Regions from separate parts of the Homo sapiens genome. Here all the other regions are linked to region 2. The links come from fine-mapping of genetic effects on gene expression. A gene starts in region 2. Each other region holds a variant in brackets. All regions are shown on one strand. Distances are from middle to middle.

Region 1 (4,091 bases), 38 kb after region 2:
ATCCTTGGGAAGCAAAGGAGGCAGAGCTAGACATTGTTATCTCTGAATCATGGGCTGTTAGGTGATACCAAGAAGGAAACTGGTATGTCCAAAGCCTTGTGATAATTCACATGGGAAGCTTTGGATTTGATTCTGTTTCTTCTGTACACATTTGCATTTGCTGAACTGACCTAAGGACTTGATCTGCCTTGGTGTGGGAAAGGATCAGATAAGAAGTCATTGCTGGCATTTTCTCTTGAAAGCAGAACAGGTTCTGTTCCCGGAGGCCAGGTCACCAACCAACAGAGATTGTGTTCAGGTACCTGTAGTGATAAGCCAGTTTGTTATAACTGTATCACAGGTTAGCAGAGTGATGTCAGGATGGCTCATTTCATTGATTATTGTAACTTAGCAAGAGCTACAAGAATTATCACAGATCTAGAAAATGGTCACATCTAAGCAAGGGTCTCTGTATCAGATATTTACCAACAGTGAGATTAGAGACCCTTGTTTACACCTTCTCAACTCAAGTAGGCACATATAATATTTAGTAGTGACTATGTGTATGCTCAGAGATGCGGGAAAGCGGAGGGAGCTGTGTGTGCCACGCTCTTGGGCTTCAGCTGTGTGTTATCTTGTGTGTGTGCGTGAGGAGCTGCTGTGGAATCAGGTGCACTTGGGTTTGAAACTTGGCTCCACCACTCACTGGCTGTGTCACTTCACATTTCTAGGCCTCAGTTTCCCCATCTGTAGGATCAGTGTAACAATAGTATGAATCCTTGTGAGCATTAAGTAAGATGAGGATATATGGAATGTATAGCATGGTGTCTGCAAATAGTACTTGATTATTAGTAATCATAGTAAAACTCATACACGACAGCATCTGAAATTACTTGTCTTTAAAGAAGTTAGAGATTCTTAATTATTTCACATGCAAGTGTTTGTACAGGAGGTAGTGTCTGGGTTCATGAAAATGTCACACTCATTTTATTATGAATAAAGCTTTTAAGGAGGCAAAGCCTCCATTAACTAGACTCAACCTCATCTTTCATGCTAATGTCATACACAACTGTTTTCTCTTTTTTATAAAATTATAAAGAGGCAAGTCAGTCTACTCATACTAGAAGATACAAAACCCTGACTATTATATAGCAGGAAGCTAAACTTCTAAAAAGCCACAAATGGCAATACTATACATTTTGCATTAGGGTCTTGGAATAGATCTATATGGACACATGGAATTACACAGGCTGAATTGAGGACACTAAGTATCTGGTTGCCTTCTCTCTGGCAAACGAGAGTGGAGATAGGTACCTGGTTGCAGGAAGTAAGGAGATGCTCTTTGCCTACAGACAGTGAGGGAAGGCTAACCAGCATTTGGAGGGGCAGCGTTCTTTGGGAAATTGAATTTTAAGCCTGCTAACCATATCATAAGACTGCAAGGCCTGGCAGAACAAGAGCATGAGGCAGCTGGATAGAAACCCAAGAAACCAAAATGAGCGACTTAAAGTGGAGCTGTTTGAAGGGGAAACAGAGCCCCAGGGAATTTCCTAACCTCAGAATGCTATTCACTCACCCTTTTTTATAGGGTGTCTGTGGCTTCTGGTTGCCTGCAAATTGAGCCAGCATGGTGCAGATGTGACAGTGGTTTAAGGCTGTTTTTCCCC[A/G]AATTTAGTGTGAATCACCTGGGGGTCTTATTAGAATGCAGAGTCTGATTCAGTAGATCTGAGGTAGGGTCTGAGATTCTGCCATTTTCAGCAAGTCCCCAGATACTGCAGAAACTGCTGGTCTGGGACCATACTTTAAGTAGCAAGTGTCTAATCCACTCTCTCCTCAACCATTTCATCCTCTGATCACCACCTTCTGTCTTCTATCCCCTGTGCCTTAACTCCAACCATTTGTGGCCCACCAGTACTCACCATCCAGTGATCCTGCTAATTTTCCTTGTCTGTCACCCCCTCCAGTTCTCCTTTCCTAGTTATCTAGCTTAGATTCCATGATCTTGTGTTATAATTATTCTTTTGCATCCACCCTCAGGTTCTTTGCTGCTCCCTCTTCCCTCATGATCCTCACTGGCAAAACCCCAACCCTGCGTAACACAGCTCTCTCCCCACGCCACATCTTCACCTACACTGGTGAGTGCGGCTGAAGGAACACACATCACTGTGCTCACAGGTCCCACTTTCGTCTCAGTGGGTCCCTGTGCCGCTATTCTGTCCATTGTTCTGCTTTTCTGGATCATCTTCTTGTGTCCTGTCCTCAAACCTCAAATACCTCCCTCTCCATCCTCATTCTCAGCTAATAATCTTGCTGCCTTTCCTGGATCTGCCCACATGTCTGCACGTGTGCCCACACCTGGCCAGTGCTCCCCTCAGTGGGTGTGGAAGCACCAGGCATGCTGTAGCTCTCTGAGGGGTGCCCAAGGTGGGCACATGGAGGGGCCAGTGGAACCAGCCCCCTCTGACCTGCCTCCCCCCCACCTTCAGGTCTGTGCTCAGCTAACATTTTCTCAGTGCTGCCTTTCCTGACTCCCCAACTCAAAGCAGCGCCCACTCCCCAGGCAGTCCCTACCTCCACAGTGCCTCTGTGGTTTTCTTCAGTGATTGTCACAGCTATGCTGCTAGATGGTGGGTTTGTTCCCCACCTCCACTAGAAAGATACATAGGACAGGGAATTTCATCTTGGTCAATATCGAAACCCCCACCTAGAATAGTGGCTGACATATGGACATTCTCCTTAAAGAAAGTATTTGGATAGATACTAGCATGGGAGATGTGATTGTGTTTGGACAGAATCAGAAAAAGCCAACTAGGAAGAACTGCATATCCACACATGTATTTAAAAAGCCACTCCCGGTCTTTTTGAATAGACAAGGCTAAGGAAGATCCCTGTTCAGGGATACTTTTGGACCTGAATATGCTGAATTTACTAGAGATTGTTGAGCCCACCAGGCCCTTTGGGGATCAGGAGGGGAAAGGACCAACATCAAATTCCATCTGAGAATCCTGTCGCTTGTCTCATTTGATGCTCTCAGGGAGGTTGGTAGTGTGAGTCAGGATTTAACCACCCGACACTGCTCTGCACTCCGTAGCATTGTCATACTCACTTGGGACACTAGCAGAGCTGTAACCAGTTCTATTTTACAAATCTGCAGGCTAAATATGCCTAATTCGCTGTGGTTTGAGGAAAAGAGATATATCATGGCTATGCCTAGGACTCCATGTGGGCCAATCCTGATGAAAACAACCACAGGACAAGTTGGCAGTGGAAATGTCCTAAGATGGCACAGAATGAAGTTGATTGCCATGAAAATATGTTGTGCTGGTCATTCTCAAGGAGTCAGGCGTTCAGTCTACTGAAAGTGAAGGAAAGGCATATCTAGCAATACTTCTTATTTTATTTTGAGGAGTTCTGCTTTTAATAACATTGTCAGCATGCACTAAATCATTGTCTCTCAAGGTTTTGAGCAGCTGTGATGCAGAGGGAAAAGCACAGGGTGTTTTGTGCGTATTGGATGAGATAACTGACCTCATGCAGGGCTGAGAATACAACAGGTGCTTTTTACATGCACCCACTCCCTCATCTATGCCCTTTCCAATGGTCCCCATCCACACTACTGTTTTTCTGCATGATATGAAAGTTAAGATATAAATATGAGAGTATGTGAGTATGTGTTTGTGTTTAAGAGATGCCCTCACTCTGTCGCCCAGGCTGGAGTGTAGTGGCACAACATAGATCACTGCAGCCTCAAAATCCTGGGCTCAAGCAATCCTCTCACCTCAGCCTCCTAAGTAGCTGGGATTATAGGTGTGAGCCACTATGCTCAAATTATTGTGTTTTAATAAGTCATCATTCATTTTAGACCAGTGATTTTCAACATGGGGATGATTTTGCTCCTAAGGGGATATTTGTTGAAGTCTGGAGACATTTTTGTTTATTACAACTCAGGGCAGGAAATGCTAGCCCCTCAAAACAAAGAATTCTCCAGCCCCAAATGTCAGCAAGGCCAGGGTTGAAAGCCCTGTTTTAGAGCATGTATTTTACATTGGTGTTTATAGTTATTTCCTCATTGGACTCTAAATAAATGAAGGAGAGAATTGAGAAGGATGTGA
Region 2 (4,091 bases):
GCCTGCATTCGTGAATTTGTCTAAATCACTTAGCTTCTGAGCCTGGGTAAAATGAGGATGGTAATTACACTTGTCACCAGATAACGTGAATATTGCCCTTCAAACTCCTCAATGAAGCCTGCACTGTGGAACTGCAATGTCCTAGGACCGGGTTGCTCTTAGAACATTTTGTTCTAAGTGTATCCTAACAAGTGTAGCAAAACTGGAAGACACAAAATGTATTTCCTCCCCACAAGAATGAAAGCCTTCCTAACTCCAAATTTAGGCACAGCCTGTAAAAGATGTGACTAGTAAACACAGAAACCATTTGCTTTATAAGGTCTAAATTGTCCTCTTCTCCAGAGTTGTAGAAGCCAAGTCCAACACGGAGATCCCTACTTTTATTCAAGTTCCACCATTAGTCAACTCATGTCCAGGATGTCTTCTTTAATATATAAAATGGGGATACTTTTTTATATTATTATTCAACTTAAGAGACCACTGTGAAATTTCAGTGAGGTAACGTATGTGAAATGTTATACTCCATAAGTTCTTAAACACCTGAGTTTCATACCATGCTCTGAAGCAAGAGGCCAAGTCTGGTTCCTGGGTCCGCTTCCCCAATGGGCTTTTCCAAGCTGTAGGCTGAGTCTAAACTGTTTCCTCCCACATACCCTTCCCTCTGCGACACACTAACAACATCCCTTACTCCATCACTGTCTTCCTTACCCTCTCCTGATGAGCCTTCTTCCCCAGCCACCTTTAAGCTCCCATTAATGATATGTGTAACGAGTGTTCAATAGAGTGTGTGTGTGTATATTTAATGCCATTTATATGTTTTTTCTTGCTAAGTAATGCATCATAATTTTAGAAAATTGGGACTAGTCAGATAAAGCACCCGTTGGTTTAGAATCCCTGACTCAAAGTCAGATGTCCTGAGTTCTAGACTTGGTTTGTCTCCTTGTAAGTGCAAAAGTTTATTCCCAATTCCAGGTTGCTAGTGTAAACTTGAAGTTTGGCCCAAACAAAACCCCTATCAGATTTATTTAGAGTGTTGATGCCAAATGGAATTCTAGAAGCCCACCTTTGCCAGGGGCTGAGCCAGAACCACTATCACTGGGGGTACGGCCTGGGCATTTGTTCTGCGTTTTTTATAAGCCCCTCGGGTGACTGTCAGACAGGCCAACTGTTTCAGAAGCTCTGCTCCAGGCTCTAGATCACACGTTAAGTAGCAAGGATGGGGGTCTGGACCTCCAGTATTGGCATCCTCCGAGAGCTTGTTAGAAAGGATGTCTCCCTCATTATCCCAGGCCTACTGAATCTGAATCTTGCATCTCATCACAATCCGCAGGAGATTCTGTCACACACTGAGGGTTTGAGAAGCACTGCTGTACCTTGGTATCTTTAGATACCTACTGATACCTGGGTGGGCCCCACCCAGACATTGTCCTGTACTTGTTCTGGGATGCGTCCGGGGCAAAGGGTTCTTACAAGCTCCCCAAGTTATTTTAATGCACAGCCACAATAGAAGATCACTGTCCCCCAAATGGCAACCCTTTACGGTTAAGCTGTAACCTGAATTAAATTGGCTTTTGTGGGCTCCCCAGGGACCTTAAGGACCGCTTAAACGGTGCTGTTTAAAGGACAATGGGCTCCTGGGACAAGTTCAACCACAGAGCTTTGGGTTCATAAAATCAGGGCAGGGAAGACTTCCTGCATCCTCCCGCGAGCAAGCCAGGCCCCGCGCCGGTCCTCACCCGTGTGCACCCCCAGCCCGGCCCCGCCCGGCTCGCCCCCTCCCGCCCCGCGGCCCGCCCCTCCTCCCCCGTGACGTGCCGCTGCGGCCAGGATCATGCGCACTCGCGCCCCGCTCCCCGCGCGGCTGCTCCGCCTCGGCGCCTGTCATTCTCCGCGGCGCGGCGGCGAGTGCTGGCTGCGGTACCCTCCCGCTCGCTTGTCCGTCTGCGCGCCCGCGATGTGACCAGCCGACTGGGGGCGGGCTGGCGGCTCTGCCTGCGGCAGCGCATCGGTTTTTCTCCTGGCAGGTCCCTAATTGAGCCGTGATTCCCTTGGAGCCAGAGACACCCACCAGGGGCTCGGAGCGCCGCGCTCCGGGGCTGGAGGCAGCTGCAGCGCTCGGGTCCGCGCGGCCGGGTGCAGTAGCCTCAGTCCCAGCCGCCGCCTCGCTGAGTCGTGTGCCCTGGCGAATGCCCGGCGCCCGGCACAGCTGAGCCAAGGCGACTGGTGCAGAGCGGCGGCGCCTGGTCCTGCACTTGCCGCTGCTGCCGGGCTGTGCCGGGGCGGCGGCGCTGCGCGCCGGAGTTTGCAGAGGCTGCCTCCGAGCGCCGTCCGCCAGGAAGACTCCCTGCCTCCTGAGTCCCAGTAAGTTGACTGTAGTTTCTGAAGTTGGAGGGAGCCGTGGGAAGGAGAGGTTCGTTTTTATCTTCTTGTGGGAAGCCGAGGGTGGCACCTCTTGTTAACAGAGTTCCAGCTCGAGGAGGGAGTGCGGGGTGCCAAGAAGGGGACAAGGCAGCTGGAAGGTCTGGAGTCCAGGGCTGGCTGACCTCAGCATCTCACGAATGTGCCAGTTGGAAATATGCTGGGAGAGGACAGGTACTCCTAGGGCATTTCGACTGCTGCGTGCTAATTATTCATTCCAAGCTCCTTGACTCTGTGTTTACGTTGGGGTGAAGGGGCTGGGCAGGGTCTTGTCACCTCCATCCTAATTCCTCTGGGGAGTGTGGCCAGCACTGCGATGGATCTTTGGGCGAGCCATTTCTTTCAGGCCTGCAGGCTTCCCGCGCATCCCGCTTTACTCTTCCCCTAGGCAGAAGTTGCCAACCTTTTCATAATTGGAGCCTAGTCCTTTAGGGAAAAAACAACTTATATGTCGACCCGGTGTTTTATGCCCTAAGGCAAATAAAACGAGCTCTGGGCGTGTGAATTCATACACTTTAAGAATGTAGGCAAGTCTCAAGAAATAGGATTCAGATAATGACACTTGGATTTCACCCTGATTGTCCTGCACCTCTTATGTAAGCCTCCCGGCTGGATAACTTTATCTCTGCAGTGGCTGCAGCTGTGGCCCTCCATTCCATTTGTTTAAAGTCCAATTGAACAGTATTTACTGAAAATGCTGACATGATATAGCGGCCTGAAGTCTGAAACAGAGTGCACTCTTCAAATTGGAGTGTCTTCTCCTAATAGGGAGCATGGGAGGAACAACCCACTATATTTTTCAAGGCAGCTCCAGGAATTAGACCCATAAATCATGTTTTAAAATAGCATGCATTGTGCAGAGAGCATGCAGAGGACCGCTTTTTGAACACATCCCCTTTGTTTTAGAAAAAGTGGAAATTGTTCATGCCAGACAATTGTTGAGTCTAAAAGTTAAGTGTACTGATGGGCCTAATTATCTTAATAAACAAAGAGCATGATTTATAGGTAGCTGCAGTGCCCTACTTTGAAGGATAGAAATCTTTAACCTTTCTTTCTCAGCTGTTCCCGAGAGATTCCTTTTAAGCAGAGCTATGGATTATCATCATTGATGTTTAATACCTGAGTTGGTTAAACTTGTAAAAGGAATAGTACTTTGAAGTACCATGCAGTACTGCTGTGTGACTGTTACACAGCGAATATTATAAATAAGAGGAATATTTGGAGTATTGGGTATAGATGTCATTAGTTTAACAAAATAGGTCATATTAAGACTTTCCTGCTAAATATATATACACATACATAAATGTTTAATTTGGACTTGAAATTATTGTTTAAACCAAAGCTCAGGGGTATGTTTTAATGTAAGATTTATTTACATAATCTTTGAAGAGAGAAGTGCATTTATTTATGGTATTTCAGCATGCAGAACAAGATGAACTAGTTATAGGCACCTTATTTAAAGTGTAAAGGGTTTTTTTTTAGGAATACTAAGAAAATACACAAAATGTTATTTCAGAAGTTGAAAAGTTAGTCACATCAACACATTGCGGTTTGTGAGAGCATCCAGTGCTTATCTCTAGAAGAGATTACATCCAAGCATGGAATCTCAAACAGATTGACCCATTAAGCCCTATTGCAGCCTGGTTAGGAGGACAGGCTATGGAGCCAGGCTG
Region 3 (4,091 bases), 29 kb after region 2:
CTGTTTAGTTTTCTTTCTAGGGTGCTTTTTGCTGGATTGGCTGTGAGTCAAGCTGGTTGATGAAGCTTCATTTTGCTAAATCTCCAGAATGGCTTGTTAATCCTTATTTTACATTTCACTGACTACTGTACCATGCAGTTTCCTTCTGTTCAACGAAGGAAGAGAAAATGGCTATATGAAGCAATAATGTGATGAATTTAGAGTCTAGCCGGAGGAATCGCCATTTGCTTCTAATTGGCACATGGAGCATAAAATCAGAGCCCTGATTTTTCTAAGAACTATTCCAAGTAAAGGCCCAACAACCATCTTAACTCAGAGCTACTCCTAGATTGTTTTAAAGTGCGTTCATCAATTTGAAGAGTATTTGTATTTATACATTTCTTGCCCTTCATTGTATCTTATTTGACTCTGATACTTTCTCTCAAATTTCTTAACAGTAACCTTTCATGTTGAACTGTAAAAAAAGAAAACGGACTTCATCTTAATGTATTTCACATAGATTTCCATTACTTTTCACTGTGTTTTTGCCACTCTGTACATTTTGCTTATAATAAAGGGTTGGTTAAAGGAAAATAGATGTAATTTTTGGCACTTGTCTGCTCTAATATCGTGACTGACACTCATAATGTACATCCAGTTCTCTTAAATCCCATAAAAAGCCATTGGGAAGAAAATTTTTGAGATAATATAAATATAATCTTACGTAAGACCTGTGTAGCCACTTCTTATAGACAGCTTAGGAAAGAAAGAAGCCTTCAAATAATTACCAAAGTAGGAAGAAAACTAAAAACCTCTCGTATTAAGGGTAATAATTGCAAAATGACACCCACATAGAAAAAGTCCCTTCCTTTCATTTTCTTGAAATATATTGAAACAAAAAGTTAACTAACATCATTTGGGTACCTTTTGAGAACTTTAAAATATATTATTTTAAAATTGATTTTCTTAAGGGTTAAATACATGGTTTTGAAGTTTTTCTTAAAGTATTTTGAAAGTATTTAAATTGATTTTATGTAAACTTTTGCTACTATTGGATGCAGCCTTTTCAGCATAGCAAATGCAATGTCCTTACTTAATGAGGTTTCTAATTTTTAACCTCAAAATGAAATGAAAAATTTGTTCTATTTCCAGGAACATGGAGTAGACATACTTTTCCCTGTTCTTCCCACTAAGTACAACTAAAATTCCTAGACATTGTTCATAAAACAAACGTAAGAAGACTCTGAAAGGTAGAGGAAAGATGGCAGAATATCTATAGACCTCAAAACCCAAGCAACACACAATAGTGAGTTACCTGGCTTTTCTTCTTTTTGAGTCGTATTTCCCAGAGCTCACATATTCCCTTTTTTTTTTTTCTAAGATGGAGTCTCGCTCTGTTGCCCATGCTGGAGTGCAGTGGTGCCATCTTGGCTCACTACAACCTCCACCTCCCAGGTTCAAGTGATTCTCCTGCCTCGGCCTCCCAAGTAGCTGGGATTACAGGCATGCACCACCACGCCTGGCTAATTTTTATATTTTCAGTAGAGATGGGGTTTCACCATGTTGGCCAGGCTGATCTTGAACTCCTGACCTCAAGTGATCTACCCGCCTCAGCCTCCCAAAGTGCTGGGATCATAGGTGTAAGCCACCACACCTGACTGAGATCCCATATATTCCTGATGAAGAAGGCAGCAAGTGGAAAACACCAACAGGCACATACAAAAACAAATAAGTAAAAGATGAAAATCTGTTTTCTGAAACCAGAGGACTAGAAAAGGTAGAGCCTAGCAAAATGGAAAACTTTTAGATAATAACTGTTGTACTCTAGCCAAGCCCCACAGAAAAAAAAATGTGGCCTCACCCTACCAGCAAAAGCTGATAGGGAAGCCTAAACTTCCACCCTTGCCAGCTCTAAATTGAGAGCTGGGGTGTCCCAAGGCACCCCAGCCCTCGCCACTGGGTAGTGTCACAGAAAACTGAGTAGGGAGCCAAGGCTTTTATTTCTGCTGCGTAGTAACAAGAGCCTCCACCTCAACCCCATGTAAGTAGAAACCA[T/C]ATGCGGAACCTGGGTTTCTACCCTCCCCAACTCCTAACAGTAATGAGGAGCCCTTTTCCTCTCCAACTGGGGTGGTGTTAGTGGACATCATGTGGGAACCAGAAACACTGTTTCTCCCAGCCAGGAAGTATTGTTGGAGGCCCGATGGAGAGCCAAAACTCCCACTCCTAACTAGCAGTAAGAATGCATCCCCCTCAGGTATCAGGGGAGGTGTAGTAGGGAACCTGATTCTACCCCAGTAATCAGGATGAACCAGCAATAATAACACAGTCTCCCCATTCCCTTCTGGGAGTGGTAACAGAGGAAGGCAACTAAAATAGAAAGTTTAAGTAAGATCCAAAGTCTCATAACATAATACCCAAAATGTCCAGGTTTCAATGAAAAAAAAAATCACTTGTGATACCAAAAACCAGGAAGATCTCACACTGAATGAAGAAAAAAAAAAGCAGTCAACAGAGGCCAGCACCAAAATGACAGGGATGTTAGAATTGTCTGCTAAGGATTTTAAAACAGCCATCATAAAAATGCATCACTGAGGAATTCTAAACATGCTGGATGCAAATGAAAAAATAGAAACCTCAGGAAATAAATAAGAAATATAATGAAGAACCTAGGGGGCATCTTAGAACAGAAAAATACAGTAACCCAAATAAAAATCTCAGTGGATGGGCTGGACAACAGAATGCAGGGGACAGGGGAAAGAATCAGTAAAGAGAGAACCATCAAAATTATTTTGTCTCAACACTAGAGAGAAAATAGAATAGAGAGCCTCAAGGACCTGTGGAACTACACTTGACATTTACCATTTGTGTCATTAGAGACCCATAAGAAGCATAGGAAGAGGGAGGGGCTGGAAAAGTACTTGAGCAATCATAGCTGAAGACTTGCCACATTTAACAGAAGACTGAAACCTACAGATACAAGGAGTTGAGTGTAGTAGGCCAAATAATGGCTCCCCCGCCAATGATGTTCATGTCTTGATTCCCAGAACTAGGGAATCAGGTTCCTTTTTTCTTTTTATTTTTTAATGTAGTAAAAGGGATTTTGCAGAGGTAATTAATTTCAGGATTTTTTTTTCTTTTCTTTTTTTTTTTTTTTTTTTTTGAGACAGAGTCTCACTCTGTTGCCCAGGCTGGAGCACAGTGGCACAGTCTCGGCTCACTGCAACCTCTGCCTGCTAGGTTCAAGTAATTCTCATGCCTCAGCCTCCCGAGTAGCTGGGACTACAGGTGTGTGCCACCATGCCTGGCTGATTTTTGTATTTTTAGTAGAGATGGGGTTTCGCTGTGTTGGCCAGGCTGGTCTTGAACTCCTGACCTCAGGTGTTCTGCCTGCCTCGGCCTCCCAAAGTGCTGGGATTACAGGCGTGAGCCACCATACCCGGCCAAGGATTTTGAGATACAGCAATATCACTCCTCAGCATTTAATCCCAGAGAAATAAAGTCACATTCTCACAAAAACCTGTGTATTAATGCTTATAGCAACCTTATTTGTAATAGTCAAAACTGGAAATAACCCAAATATCCTTTAATGGATGAGTGGCTGAACAAACCGGTACATCCATATCGTGGAATACTACTCCACAATAAAACAAAGGAGCTATTGATATATGCAGCAGCTAGTGTGCATCTCCAGAGAGCCATGCTGTGTGAATAAGCCCAATCCCAAATGGCTACATGTAACATGACTCCATTTATATAACATTCTTTAAATGATAAAGTCGTACAAATAGAGATGAGATTCACGATTGCTAGGAGTTAAGGATGTGGTAGGGACAGGAGGGAAGTGGGTGGGGCTACAGAAGGGCAACATGAGTAATACTTGGTGATGGAAATGTTCTATATCTTCCTTCTATCAGTGTGTTTACCTTAGTTGTAATGTTGTAATATAGTGTTGCAAGAAGTTACCAGTGAGGGAAACTGAGCAGTGGGTACATGAGATCCCTCTTTATTATAAGTAACTGCTTGTGAATCTATAACTATCTAAAATTTTAAAATTTAATTTAAAAAATAACTTTTAAAAATTTCTTGTAGCTACATCAATTTGAAAACACAAT
Region 4 (4,091 bases), 50 kb before region 2:
TCACTTAACAACAGGGAAACATTCTGAGCAATGCGCCATTAGGCAATTTCATTGCTGTGCGAACATCACAGAATATACTTCTACCAATCTGGATGCTGTAGCCTACACATACAGCCTATTGCTCCTAGTCTACAAACCTAGGCAGCATGTTACTACATTGAATATTATAGGCAATTATATCACAATGGTAAGTATATGTGTATCTGAACATATCTAAACATTGAAAAGATACGGTAAAGTTACAGTATTATAATCTTATGAGACCATCCTTGTATATGCAGTCTGTGATTGACTGAGATGTTGTTATGCAACAAATGACTGTACCATAATGTTGGATATAGGTCATTATACATTTATCCAAACCCATAAAATGTACAACACCAAGGGTGAACCCTAATGTAAACTATGGACTTCGGGTGATAATGATGTGTCAATGTAGGTTCATTAACTGTAATGGATGTAGCATTCTAGAGGGGAATGTTGATCATGGGGGAGGCTATACATGTCTCAGGGCAGGGGACATATGGGAAATCTCTATATCTTCCACTCAATTTTTCTGTGATCTGAAATCTGCTCTAAAAAATAAAGATTTTATTTTTAAAAATTAACTACATGTGGACAAAATTTGTGAAATAACACGAAGAAATAACTATTAGAGAGTTGGGATTATGTTGTGATTTAGAAAATAGACTTTTTGTTGATTGATTTAGCCAAAAAAAATTTAATTCTATTGTAAAGATATGAGTTTAAGAAAATGGGCAAAGTGATGACAAAAAGAAAACCTGATAACTAAGGCTGGCATTTGCTTTAATCAAGAAATTATATATGCCTCCCATTGTTATCATTAATAAGAGCTAATACTTGTATATTATTTCCTGCATGCTGAGTCCTTAAAACAAAAATTAGTCCTCACCTATGATTAGAATCCACTTTGCGTATATCTTTTCTTTCATTCCTGTCAGAAATGGATAAAATGAGAGTATGCCACTGCATATGGAGAAAACAAGAGACATAGCAAAATAAAGGTATTTTTCTGCTTTCACTGTATAAGGATACAAGAGAAATATACAAGATGACTTCTGCCCTCAAGGCCTTTAGAACTTAGCTGGGGGAAACTGTACCTGAAATAATTGGCAGCGAAAGATACTGTTTTCTGTTGCATCAAAGTGCAATAAAATATTTTAAAAAGATAACAAATACATGAAAACAACTCCACCAGTGTTCCTCAATAGGAGTGCTGTTAGAATTAGTGACAGAACATTTCTTTCTTTGTGCAGAACTCTCTCATGCATTGTAAGATTGCTTACATCCCTGGCCCCTGTCCTTTAAATGCCAGGTGTTCCCAGCCATTGTGTCAAACAAAAATAAATTTAATTTCAAATGCCTCTCACATTTATTTACAAATTAAGACTCTTTAGACCAAACATTTTCAAACTCTAGTGTTCCAAAGAATCTTAAGTGCTTTGGTGCATCCTGTTCAACTTATCAATATTGAAAACCATAGTAAAAATAATACTGATAACCTGTGTATGCAAAACCCTTAGACATCTTTGACTCCTCTCTTCTCTCATCTTCCACATTAGATCAAGCAACACTGCTCTGTCTGCTCTACCTTTAAAACCCCATTCACGGTCCAACCATTTCTGTCTACCATACCACGTTGTCCAAACTCCCATCATCCCTCACCTGGATTATTGCAGTAGCTTCTTGTTGTGGACTGAATGTCTATGTCTCCCCAAAATTCATAAGTGAAGCCCTAACCTGCAATGTGCTGGTATTTGGAGACAGGGCCTTTGGGAGGTTAGATGAGGTCATGAGGGTGGAGCCCTGGTACAATGGATTAGTGTCCTTATTAGAAGGCTCACAAGAAAGCGCTCTCTTTCTCCCTCTCTTCCTCTTCCTCTCCTAATTCCTCCCCCAACCCAGGCACACCCATCAAGGGAAGGCCATATGAACACATGGCGAGATGGTGGCTGCCTTTAAGCTAAGAGAAGAGGCCTCCCAGTGACACTTACCTTGCTGGTACTTTGGTCTTATGCTTCACGGCCTCCAAAACCATGAGAAATAAATGTCTGTTGTTTAAGACACCCAGCCTGTGCTATTTTCTTTTGGCAGCCTGAGCCACCTAGTACCCCTCCCAACTAGTTGCTTGGCGTTCCCTTTGCCTTGTTCAGCCCATTCTCAGCATTGTGCTGAGAGTGATCCTGGTAAAAACGTAAGTCAGATTACAT[C/T]ATGTCCTCCTCAGAACACACCCATGACTTCTTCTTTTCTCATGAACATTACAAAAGGTTTTTACATAACCCTTGTGACTTGGGCCATGTGAACTTTTTGGCATGGCCTTTTAATACCCTTCCTGGCCTCCTCACCCAGAACACAGGCTTGCTGGTCCTCCGGTGTGCCAGGTTCGCTCTCTCCACAGGGCCTTTGCACAGCCTGTTCCATCTCTGGAGAGCTCCTCCCTTGCTCCCTCGACCATGAATTTCTTTACTCAGATTTCCATGGTCACCTTAGCTAGTGCCAATGCCCTTTCTCTCACACATCCACTTCCTATCTCCTTCCTTTAATTGACTGTTCTCATTGTCCTGTGCTGCTTTTTTTCTTTCCATAGCACATTATATATTTTACTTATTTATCTTGTTTATTGTTAGCTCATCCTCCCCATGAGAAAATCACCTCCATCGGGACAGGGGTTTTCTTTTCCGTGTTGTTCATTGCTGTTTTCCCAGTATCTGAAAAAGTATTTCTCAATATTTTTTTCATTATTGTTCCCCTAGGACTTTTTCAGGCATCTTTTTTCCTAATCGCCACCCTATGAAATTTTAATACCACAGATAGGCTGTATATATGATTATGTTTGGGGGGCCACAAACCATTTCAATATCTAACATTTTTCACCCTCAATAACTAATATTTTCTCCCTTGGCATATTATCACCATATTGAGGGTACATGATTGAGAATAAGGCCTTGGTAAATAACTAGCTGTTGAGAATAGCACATGGTAAATAACTATATGTTGAATAAATGAATGATTTAAATAATATATATACATAAAATTTATCACTGAATACCATCAACATGTTAACTTATGCAATATAAAATAACTTTATGCAAATTTCAGAAAGTTTTTCTGTTCCTTCTGTTTAATAGAAAATTCTGAGATTGAAGCCAGGCATGCTGGCTCACGCCTGTAATCCGAGCACTTTGGGAGGCCGAGGCGGGTGGATCACTTGAGGTCAGGAATTCTAGACCAGCCTGGCCAACTTGGTGAAACCCCGTCTCTACAAAAATACAAAAATTAGCCGGGCATGGGGGCGGTGGCACGTGCCTGTAATCCCAGCTACTCGGGAGGCTGAGGTGGAAGAATTGCTTGAACCCAGGAGCTGGAGGTTGCAGTGAGCTGAAATCCAGCCTGGGTGACAGAACGAGACTCCGTCTCAAAAAAATAAATAAATAAATAAGTAAATACAATAAAATAAAATAAAATTCTGAGATTGTTAATATTTATAACTATTTGACTCTATGAATCATAGTCCATTTTTTTTTTTTTTTTTTAGACAGAATCTGGCTCTGTTGCCCAGGCTGGAGTGCAATGACGCGATCTCAGCTCACTGCAAACTCCGCCTCCTGGATTCAAGCGATTCTCCTGTCTCAGCCTCCTGAGTAGCTGGGATTACAGGCATTGAAAAGATAAGTAAAGTTACAGTATTATAATCTTATGGCACATTCCTTGTATATGCAGTCCATGGTTGACTGAGATGTTGTTATGCAACAAATGACTGTACCATAATGTTGGATATATGGTGCCCGCCACCATGCCTACCCCACTAATTTTTGTATTTTTAGTAGAGATGGGATTTCACCATGTTGGTCAGGCTGGTCCCGAACTGCTGACCTCATGATCCACCCACCTCGGTATCCCAAAGTGCTGGGATTATAGGCGTGAGCCACCACGCCCGATGAATCATAGTCTTTTAAAATATTAAGTAACCATAATAAAATAAGACATAAATTTCAGTTTGAGGCTAAATATAAGACCACTATACTTATCTATATACCTTGATTCCAAACTTTTTATTAATTGAAACATTA
Region 5 (4,091 bases), 140 kb after region 2:
TATAAATAGGAATTGGCATTTCATTGTTAATGTTTTTTCCTCATAAAAATAGTTACACCAAAAGTGACATATTGTCTATTACATGGGCCCAATCAGTATTAAAGTACTCCCCTTACTCAAAAATATTAAAAAATAATTCATGACACTTAGTAGCATTTTCATTGATTGTTTCAAAAGATCTTCATAATGGTCAAATTGTCCAATTCACAAAAGAGTGAGAAAGTTGTTTTCAGTACTGGGAATTTTTAAACCTTAGTTTTAAGACCAAAAATATCTCTTATTAGCTTGAACATTTTGTGATTACTTTTCCCTCCCCGGATCTAGTCCTTTTAAGGAGTAAGTCTAAAGAATGAGGCCATGAAGTCACTATTTCCTCCCACCTCAGTTTGTCTCCTGGTACTTAGCTGGCCTATCGCTTTGTGTGGCAATACCCCTGGGTCGCTTCCCCACTCAGCCTTCTGTATCTGCTGTTCACAGGACATGCCATTATGTCTTTCCAGTACGGATCACAGTGCTGCCATATCACAGACCCTGCCAGCCGGCACAGAACCATGCCTCGTCACAGCTCTGCCCAACTCACAGGCTGCCAAGATGAGGCCACAGGTCCACCTAGGGCGGCAGATGCTGGTGCTATTTGTCACGACTTTTGCCAAAACATGTACACTGTTGCTCACATCTTTCGTAAGAATGGTTGACACTAAGGGGCCATGGAAAAGCACTTTTAAAAAATTATGTGGTGGAATCAAACTCACAGAGGCAGAAATGTTAGTGCCGTGCTCTAACCAAGTAAGCTTAGTGTTCCCCACAGTGATCTGTATCTGGCCTGAGTCTCCTCAAGCAGCAACCCCCACTGTCCAGCATGTGGAAGGTAGATCCTTATGACAACACCAGACCCATAGTTACCAGGAAAGAAAAAGGAAGCTGAGTGTTGTGAAGGGGAAGAAATCCTTTTTATAAGAAGTAATCATTTTTAGGCCGGGTGCAGTGGCTCATGCCTGTAATCCCAGCACTTTGGGAGGCTGAGACAGGTGGATCACTTGAGGTCAGGAGTTTGAGACCTGCCTGGCCAACATGATGAAACCCTGTCTCTACTAAAAATGCAAAAAAAATTAGCCAGGCATGGTGGCATGTGCCTGTAGTCCCAACTACTCAGGAGGCTGAGGCAGGAGAATCACTTGAACCTGGGAGGCAGAGGTTGCAATGAGCTGAGATCGCAACACTGCACTCCAGCCTGGGCGACAGAGCAAGACTCCATCTCAAAAACAAAAACAAAAAAAAAACCTTTTTAAAGTAAATTGAGTGTAAAATGTTTTCACCATGAAGCCATTGCACCCTCTCCCCCAGGAAACAGTGCCTAAGGATGATGTCAAGTTACAGCCAGTTTGCTCTGATCCCCCAGGACCTAAGAAAACTGTGAGTGCTTCAGCATGCAAAGGTAGAGCTACCAGATAAGGAGAATAACTTGGCCATTTATAGCAAACTGCCTGACTTTGGAGTGAGAAACCAAGCACCTTCTAGGTCCTAGGATAGGTGAATTGGAGGTGCAGCTGCTGAAGTTCCCATTTTCTACATACTTCAGGAGCCAGGGTGTTTCATTTGGTTTTGTAAAACTTTGCTGTAAGTCATCACAGTTAATTCTTTGAATGGACATTTTAGA[G/A]TGTAACTTTTTTTCAAAATTAGCAGAACAGATATCTCTGCTCATTCTCTTTATACATTTAGTTTTTTAAAGTTCCCCTAGTATACCTGTTAGGCACTCTAAATAGGACACAGTTAAAGCTAAAAGAAGGACCAGTTGCTCCCTAGAGCCTACAGTTCAGAACTATCTTGTTGTCATGTCCTGGTTTGGTTTGGTTTGTTTTTAACTCAACAAGTTGGAAACCATGAGTTTAAAGCAAACTATTTCCTTTTCTTAAGCTTAAAGAGAATTTTTTTTTTAATCTTTAGCTCCTCATTTAGGTAGTGAAGGCTTCCCTGAAAGACAGCAGTGCCCTTCTCTGGAAGAAGAGGCTGGGACCAAAAGCCTGAGTCTATGGGTTGAGGATTTTGAGCATTCCTTTGACAAGCTTCTATGTATTTTTAATATAAGACTCATAAATGAACCTGATGTGGTGTTCATGACCCATCCCTTAAGCATGCTTGCTTTTTTTAACTTTACTTTTTGAGTATAGTACTTGTCTTGTTTTTCCTGGAGCCATGCTAGGATTTAATTCCTATGTGCCACTACCCGCCCATGTCCTGGAAGATGGCCATGCCTGCAGCAATGCTCATGTCTTGAGGAGAAGCAATGTGAAAAGCATCAGGAAAGCTGAACCTTACGTTCAAGTCAGCAAACATTTGTGAGCATTCTAGTATGCTTGCGACCTTGACACTTTTTAAAAATTATCTTTTTATTTGCTTCGAGTATCAACCGTATAGTTGACTCTAGTGGGGCGAAGGGAGCAGAGATGAGAGCAAAATTCAGACTTGCTGCCCCTGTGTGTCTCAGTTCTCATGTCTCTCTGAGAAATGTGTTGGCCCAATTCCCTATCTGCCACTCTGAGTCTCTTGAGTAAATGTGTGTAAATGAGAAAAATTATCTCAAAGATTTAACTTATTATTTAGATATTTTCTTCTTTTTAAACTCAGGAATAAACCTGGTTTGTAGATAATATAATATGGCTACTAGAGCTATAATTGAGTAGGTGACTAGAAGCATTTTTTCAAATATATTTCTTGTAAAGACATCTACTTTGTTTTAACTAGGAAAAGAAACTCCTCATATTAAAATAAACATTTCCATAAGCACTTTCTAGAAGAGTGTAGCATCCATCTACCATCCATCCCAGAATGTTTGTATCTTGCTCATAGTATTTCAAAAATTTTTATGGGTGAAAAAAATGCACTTTTTTATTTATTGGAAAAGTGTAGAGTTATTGAATTAAATTCTCAAGTGGGACAATTTAGTGTAAAGGGAAACATGGGTTTTGGAGACAAGAGCACAGGGCTGTGGTCCCTGTTCCAGCATTGACTTTACTATGTGACCTCGAGCAAATGATTTAACTTCTCTGTGCCTCAGTTTCTCCATATACAAAATGGGGATAATGATACTAACCATTGCCTACCTCATAGAGATGTTATGGGGACAAACGAAATAATAGAGATAAGCACGAATGCTTTCAACTCTTCGGAAGAAAGGTGCTATATAAATTGAAGTTGTGTTTTTAATGATCCAATTATTAATTATGTTTAGGGTTTAAATAACAATACTGTTAGTCATGTTAAGAATAAGTTTTGTTTTGATGCATATTTCCACTTCTCTTCTGTGGCCAGATCTTGATCATTCAACCAGTAATGGTACCTGAGGAACTGAAATGGGTATTTGTTTTCGTATGTTTCTGCCAGTAGTATTTCAATTGAATATCCAGAAAAGACTGGAGTTTAACTTGTAATATCTTATAGTTTACATGTAATAAAACTTATTCAAGCTATATATAAAAGTATGATTACATGTAAATAGCAGGTATGTTGTAATTAAAGGCACTTATCAAATTGTCTTTGTTCTTTTTTAATTGTAATAAAAGTCAGTTTTACATAAAGGCTTGTTAAAATTTATTTGGTATTTGAAAAGGTCAAGAATGGCTAATTTATGTACCTTTCATACATTACCAGGGTTTTGGGATTCCAGCAGTCAACTCACCACCATAACAGGAAAGATAATGTTCCTGGTAATCAGACCAAAGTGTGTAGAGGTTAGCATCAAAAACTTTGCAGAAAAGGACCCGAGTTTGAATCCCGGCTCCATCATGACTTTGAGGAAGCTGTTAGACTTCTTTGTGCCCTCCTTTTCACATTAGGAAATGGGGGATTATAGTATAGAACCTGCTAATGGGGTTGTCCTGGGGATTAAATGAGATATTAAGCATGGTACCTGGCAAGGTGCTAAGTGCTCTGTGCATGGTAAGAGACCATCTTCACAAAAGGGCTGGGAAATTTTTGATGGCATTTACCCACACTTGCCAAGCACTCCTATGAAGATGTGCAACCTGAGAGCAAATAATTCCCCAGGCCAAGAGGAAAATCCATCTGCTTGTTGTGTGAAGGGGATGCAGCCC
Region 6 (4,091 bases), 23 kb before region 2:
CTAATAAGTGAGAACGTGCGGTGTTTGCTGTTCTGTTCCTGTGTTAGTCCGCTTAGGATAATGGCTTCTAGCCCCACCAATGTCCCTGCAAAAGACATGATCTCTTTCCTTTTTGTGGCTGCTGAAGTCTCGCTTTTTTAATGGAGATGGGCCCAGGCATCCCAGTATTTCCAAGAACAGCTTTTTCCTATGATAGCTATAACATGGAGAAAATTATTACTTTTCAAAAATTGCAAAGAAAGCATCAATGTCACCATAAAAATATTATGATCAGGTCCCATGATGGACACATCAGCTATATTTAGAGGACAAACGAAGAGATGGATTCTATTTTAGAAAATATTTTCATACTTCGAATGTGTTCCTTAAAATATTTAATGGGGCAGTTTCACTGGTAACTAGAACATAAAACTGAAGTCTCCCAATCCTTGCCGTCCATGGCAACTTAGGTGATCACAGGAACTGCCACTCTTCCCGAGTCTGCATGTGGACATTCTGTGCTCACAAGGGAAGAGCCAAGGAGGGATGTCAGGAAGAAGCGCTTTTTTAAAATCGGCAGAATTTTAATATTTTTGTTCTTCTGGACAAAGAATATTCTCTACAACTAATGGTTTATCCAACATTTATCTCAGGAACATCTGAGTTTTGTTAATTTTCTTAGAGGTAGTAACTGGACGATGTATAGACAAACATGTTTGCCTCCCGACTGTAGCAGAGAATAATCTCTTGAGAGGAAATAGTTCTTTTTACAGCAACAAAAAGCAAGAAAAGCAGAGCAATAAGATGATGCTGTTAGTAGTTTATGTCTCTTAAGACCTTAAAAGGTAATAATCATTCTACCTTCCATTTCCTTAGCGCCTGATGGTTTGCAAAGTACTTTCACATACATTATCTCACTCAAGGAAAAGAAATGCATATTCTATAAGGGCCATTCCTGAGAGAAAATGAAACATCAAGCAAACGAAAACTATTCCTCGATTGAATAATTCAGGGAGCTGCTCTATCAAAATAGTGAACCACTTCATGAGAAACAGAGGAGACAAAAAATCAAATCAAATCACCATCACTGGCATAAATATGAAATATATGGGGTCGACTAACTTTTTTTCATTATGTTCATGATTCAGGGACTATAATTTGTTTCATATTTGTCAAAATTGGAAATAAGATGATAAATAGATATCCTAGCTCTTAGGCACCCTGTGGAATTTCAATGTCTTGCCACCTAAGGCAAAATACACACACACACACACACACACACACACACACACACAGTTTGGCAGTGTAATGACTTTCTTTTGCCCTCTGATTCCATACAAATTTAACTCCCTGTCATGACACCTGCCCCACTGTTATTGTTGTGTACCTTTTGCTCCAGCCTGGCCAGGGTCTTCCTTTGACAAAAATGTGCACATTGCTGCTTCTTAGCCTCTGTTCCCCACACCATTCTTCATAGCTAAAATAATATTTCTTCCTCCAAGCACTTTGCCCAACTACCCTGAGCTACAATCTCCATTCTTTGTCTCTAATAATTCCTGTTTTTTATTCATTCACCCAATAACTATTTGATGAGAGCTGCCTATGCACAAGATATCAGGCTAGGTACTGGGAATAGAGCAATGAAAAAGACAAACGAGATCTCTCCTCTTAAGGAGCTGGGGACATTCTGGGAGGCGGGGACAGACAATAAATGCATTTTACACATTTCAGATGCTGCTAAGTACTATGAAGCTCTATAACAGGGTAATACAAGAAAGTGGCTGGAGAGGGGACAGATAGTTTAGGTTGGGGGGATAGTCAGGGAAGGCTTCACTGAGGAGGTGACATCTGAGCTGGGACCTGAATGACAAGAAGGAGCCAGCCCTGCAAAGATAGGGGGAACAGGAAGAAGGGCGGTGTGGCAGGAGGAGAGTAAGCACAGGGAAGCATGCTGAGAGGCATGAAGAGAGGAGCTGAGAGTCAGGCAAGAGTTAGATCCCGCATGGACTTTACCTTTTACTCCAGGTGCACCCAGACGCATGGGA[G/A]GGTTTTCTGCAGGAGAGTGGCAAGACAGGATTTGTGTTTTTTGAAAGATCTCTCTGACTACTGGTCAGAGAATGGACCATGAGGGTACAAAGTTAGAATGAGGCAGACCAGTTAAGAGGTTGTTGCAGGTCCAGGGGAGACAAAAGAGGTGGAGACTTTGTATGGGGAACATGGAGAAAAGTTGGCAGATATGGGGTCTATTTTGTACATTAAGCCATTCAGACTCATGGGTAAGTTAAATGCAGCAGGGGAAAGAAGTTCGATGTCATATTCTACTGTGTCATAATTAAACAATCTCACGTGTGTTTGTACATGTATTTCAACTGAACTATAATTACTTTGCAATCAGAAATTAGTCATATTCTTCTACTCTTTTTTTTACTCAGCTACAGAAATGAGGATGGCTCATTGTAGAAATGAGCGTGCAATAAAGACTTGCTAACTTGAATCCAATTAATATTTCTACTTCTATTGTGGGTCCAAAGTCGTCTAGTTCAACTAATCATGGCAAAGCCAAGTGTCTCCCTTCCATTTTCTTTACTGCATCCTGCCATCTGTCCTTTCACCTCCTGCTACTTTTCAGTCACTGTAATTCTCCCTGTGATTCCTTCGCAATCGCCCTCTGAGTATCAGATTTCTGCTTCCTCGCTCACTGCACGCCACAGTTAGTTCTGTGCAGCTTGCTCCAGCCATTTACTCTGTGCCCACTCCCTGTCAGGCCCTCGGCTGGGTGATGGGGACCCAAAGGTAAACATCAGCAGACGTGAGAAGAAACTTCACAGTTTAATCTTCACACGAGAACTAGGAGGGAGAATCCTGGACCACACAGGTACCACACGAGAACTAGGAGGGAGAATCCTGGACCACACAGGTACCACACGAGAACTAGGAGGGAGAATCCTGGACCACACAGGTACCACACGAGAACTAGGAGGGAGAATCCTGGACCACACAGGTACCACACGAGAACTAGGAGGGAGAATCCTGGACCACACAGGTACCACACGAGAACTAGGAGGGAGAATCCTGGACCACACAGGTACCACACGAGAACTAGGAGGGAGAATCCTGGACCACACAGGTACCACACGAGAACTAGGAGGGAGAATCCTGGACCACACAGGTACCACACGAGAACTAGGAGGGAGAATCCTGGACCACACAGGTACCACACGAGAACTAGGAGGGAGAATCCTGGACCACACAGGTACCACACGAGAACTAGGAGGGAGAATCCTGGACCACACAGGTACACGTAAGAAAGAAAGGGAAGAATTACACAGGAAAACACGGATTTGATTCTCTCCTTTAGAGCTGGGCTCCCAAAGAGTTCCATAAAAGGGAAGACATCTTTGCTTCCCTGCCCCTTATCTCTCAAGCCTTCTGGACACTCTGTTTCAAGTTCCAGGAAAGGAAATCTTCGGCCTCTCCTTGAGAAGCAAAGAGAATTCAGTGACAATGTGTACAGAAATGTCTCTGACTTTCCTTAGATGATTCCATCTTTCTTCCTGCAACTCACCTCCTCACAAACAAACGTCCTCTCCTGCATTTGGGTTAATTTATTTTCAGTAAACACTCATCAAATGACCACCACTAAGCACAAGACCTAGCAGGGTCCTAGAAATATAGTTTCTGTCTTCTAGATCTTTGAAGGAAAGACATAAAATAAAGTAAAGTGAAATTCACACCAAGTAGACATCTGAACCACACGGTATTTGAACACAAAAGTGATGCATTCTGAATAGATGGCTCAAGAAAGACACCTGCCTGGATATGGAAAGGAGGGTAGTATTTTGAGAGGCTCAGGAGAGTATGGAGGTATAGGAACAGAGTGAGCAAAAGCTCAGAGGCTTCACACTGCATTCAAACTCCAGATTATGGTGCGAAGTTGTCTGTGGCTGGAAAATAGAAATTAGGGAGAAATACTCTAAAAATAGAGGTGTAAATGAAGCCAAGGTCAAGCTTTCAGAAACCTTCAATGCATGTTGCAGCATTATTTTCTGGCCAAAAAGGAGTTACTGAAGGCTTTTGGATAGAGAAATAACATCCAACATCCTTTTTCTGGA

What was found. PIP is the estimated chance that this variant, and not a neighbour inherited with it, causes the effect.
Region 1: its variant is fine-mapped to the expression of PAG1 in whole blood (TOPMed, PIP above 0.99).
Region 3: its variant is fine-mapped to the expression of PAG1 in whole blood (TOPMed, PIP above 0.99).
Region 4: its variant is fine-mapped to the expression of PAG1 in whole blood (TOPMed, PIP above 0.99).
Region 5: its variant is fine-mapped to the expression of PAG1 in whole blood (INTERVAL, PIP above 0.99).
Region 6: its variant is fine-mapped to the expression of PAG1 in whole blood (TOPMed, PIP above 0.99).

The regions. Positions count from the first base shown.
Region 1 is chr8:81,072,274-81,076,364 of GRCh38, reverse strand. The region is part of intron 1 of PAG1 (phosphoprotein membrane anchor with glycosphingolipid microdomains 1); the gene reads left to right. Among named protein-coding and RNA genes, the nearest start is that of PAG1, 38 kb to the left of the region's middle. The variant A/G (reference allele first, on the strand shown) is at 1,647.
Region 2 is chr8:81,109,861-81,113,951 of GRCh38, reverse strand. It overlaps PAG1 (phosphoprotein membrane anchor with glycosphingolipid microdomains 1), which reads left to right and starts at 1,884. Exons shown (of 9, transcript NM_018440.4): 1 at 1,884-2,361. RefSeq lists a silencer at 1,749-1,878 and an enhancer at 2,369-2,438.
Region 3 is chr8:81,081,301-81,085,391 of GRCh38, reverse strand. All of the region lies in intron 1 of PAG1 (phosphoprotein membrane anchor with glycosphingolipid microdomains 1), which reads left to right. Among named protein-coding and RNA genes, the nearest start is that of PAG1, 29 kb to the left of the region's middle. The variant T/C (reference allele first, on the strand shown) is at 2,035.
Region 4 is chr8:81,159,489-81,163,579 of GRCh38, reverse strand. LOC105375924 (a long non-coding RNA gene) reads right to left here. Exons shown (of 2, transcript NR_188114.1): 2 at 4,055-4,091. Among named protein-coding and RNA genes, the nearest start is that of PAG1, 49 kb to the right of the region's middle. The variant C/T (reference allele first, on the strand shown) is at 2,232.
Region 5 is chr8:80,967,294-80,971,384 of GRCh38, reverse strand. PAG1 (phosphoprotein membrane anchor with glycosphingolipid microdomains 1) reads left to right here. Exons shown (of 9, transcript NM_018440.4): 9 at 1-3,575. Among named protein-coding and RNA genes, the nearest start is that of ZNF704, 95 kb to the right of the region's middle. The variant G/A (reference allele first, on the strand shown) is at 1,658.
Region 6 is chr8:81,133,157-81,137,247 of GRCh38, reverse strand. No RefSeq gene overlaps it. Among named protein-coding and RNA genes, the nearest start is that of PAG1, 23 kb to the right of the region's middle. The variant G/A (reference allele first, on the strand shown) is at 2,025.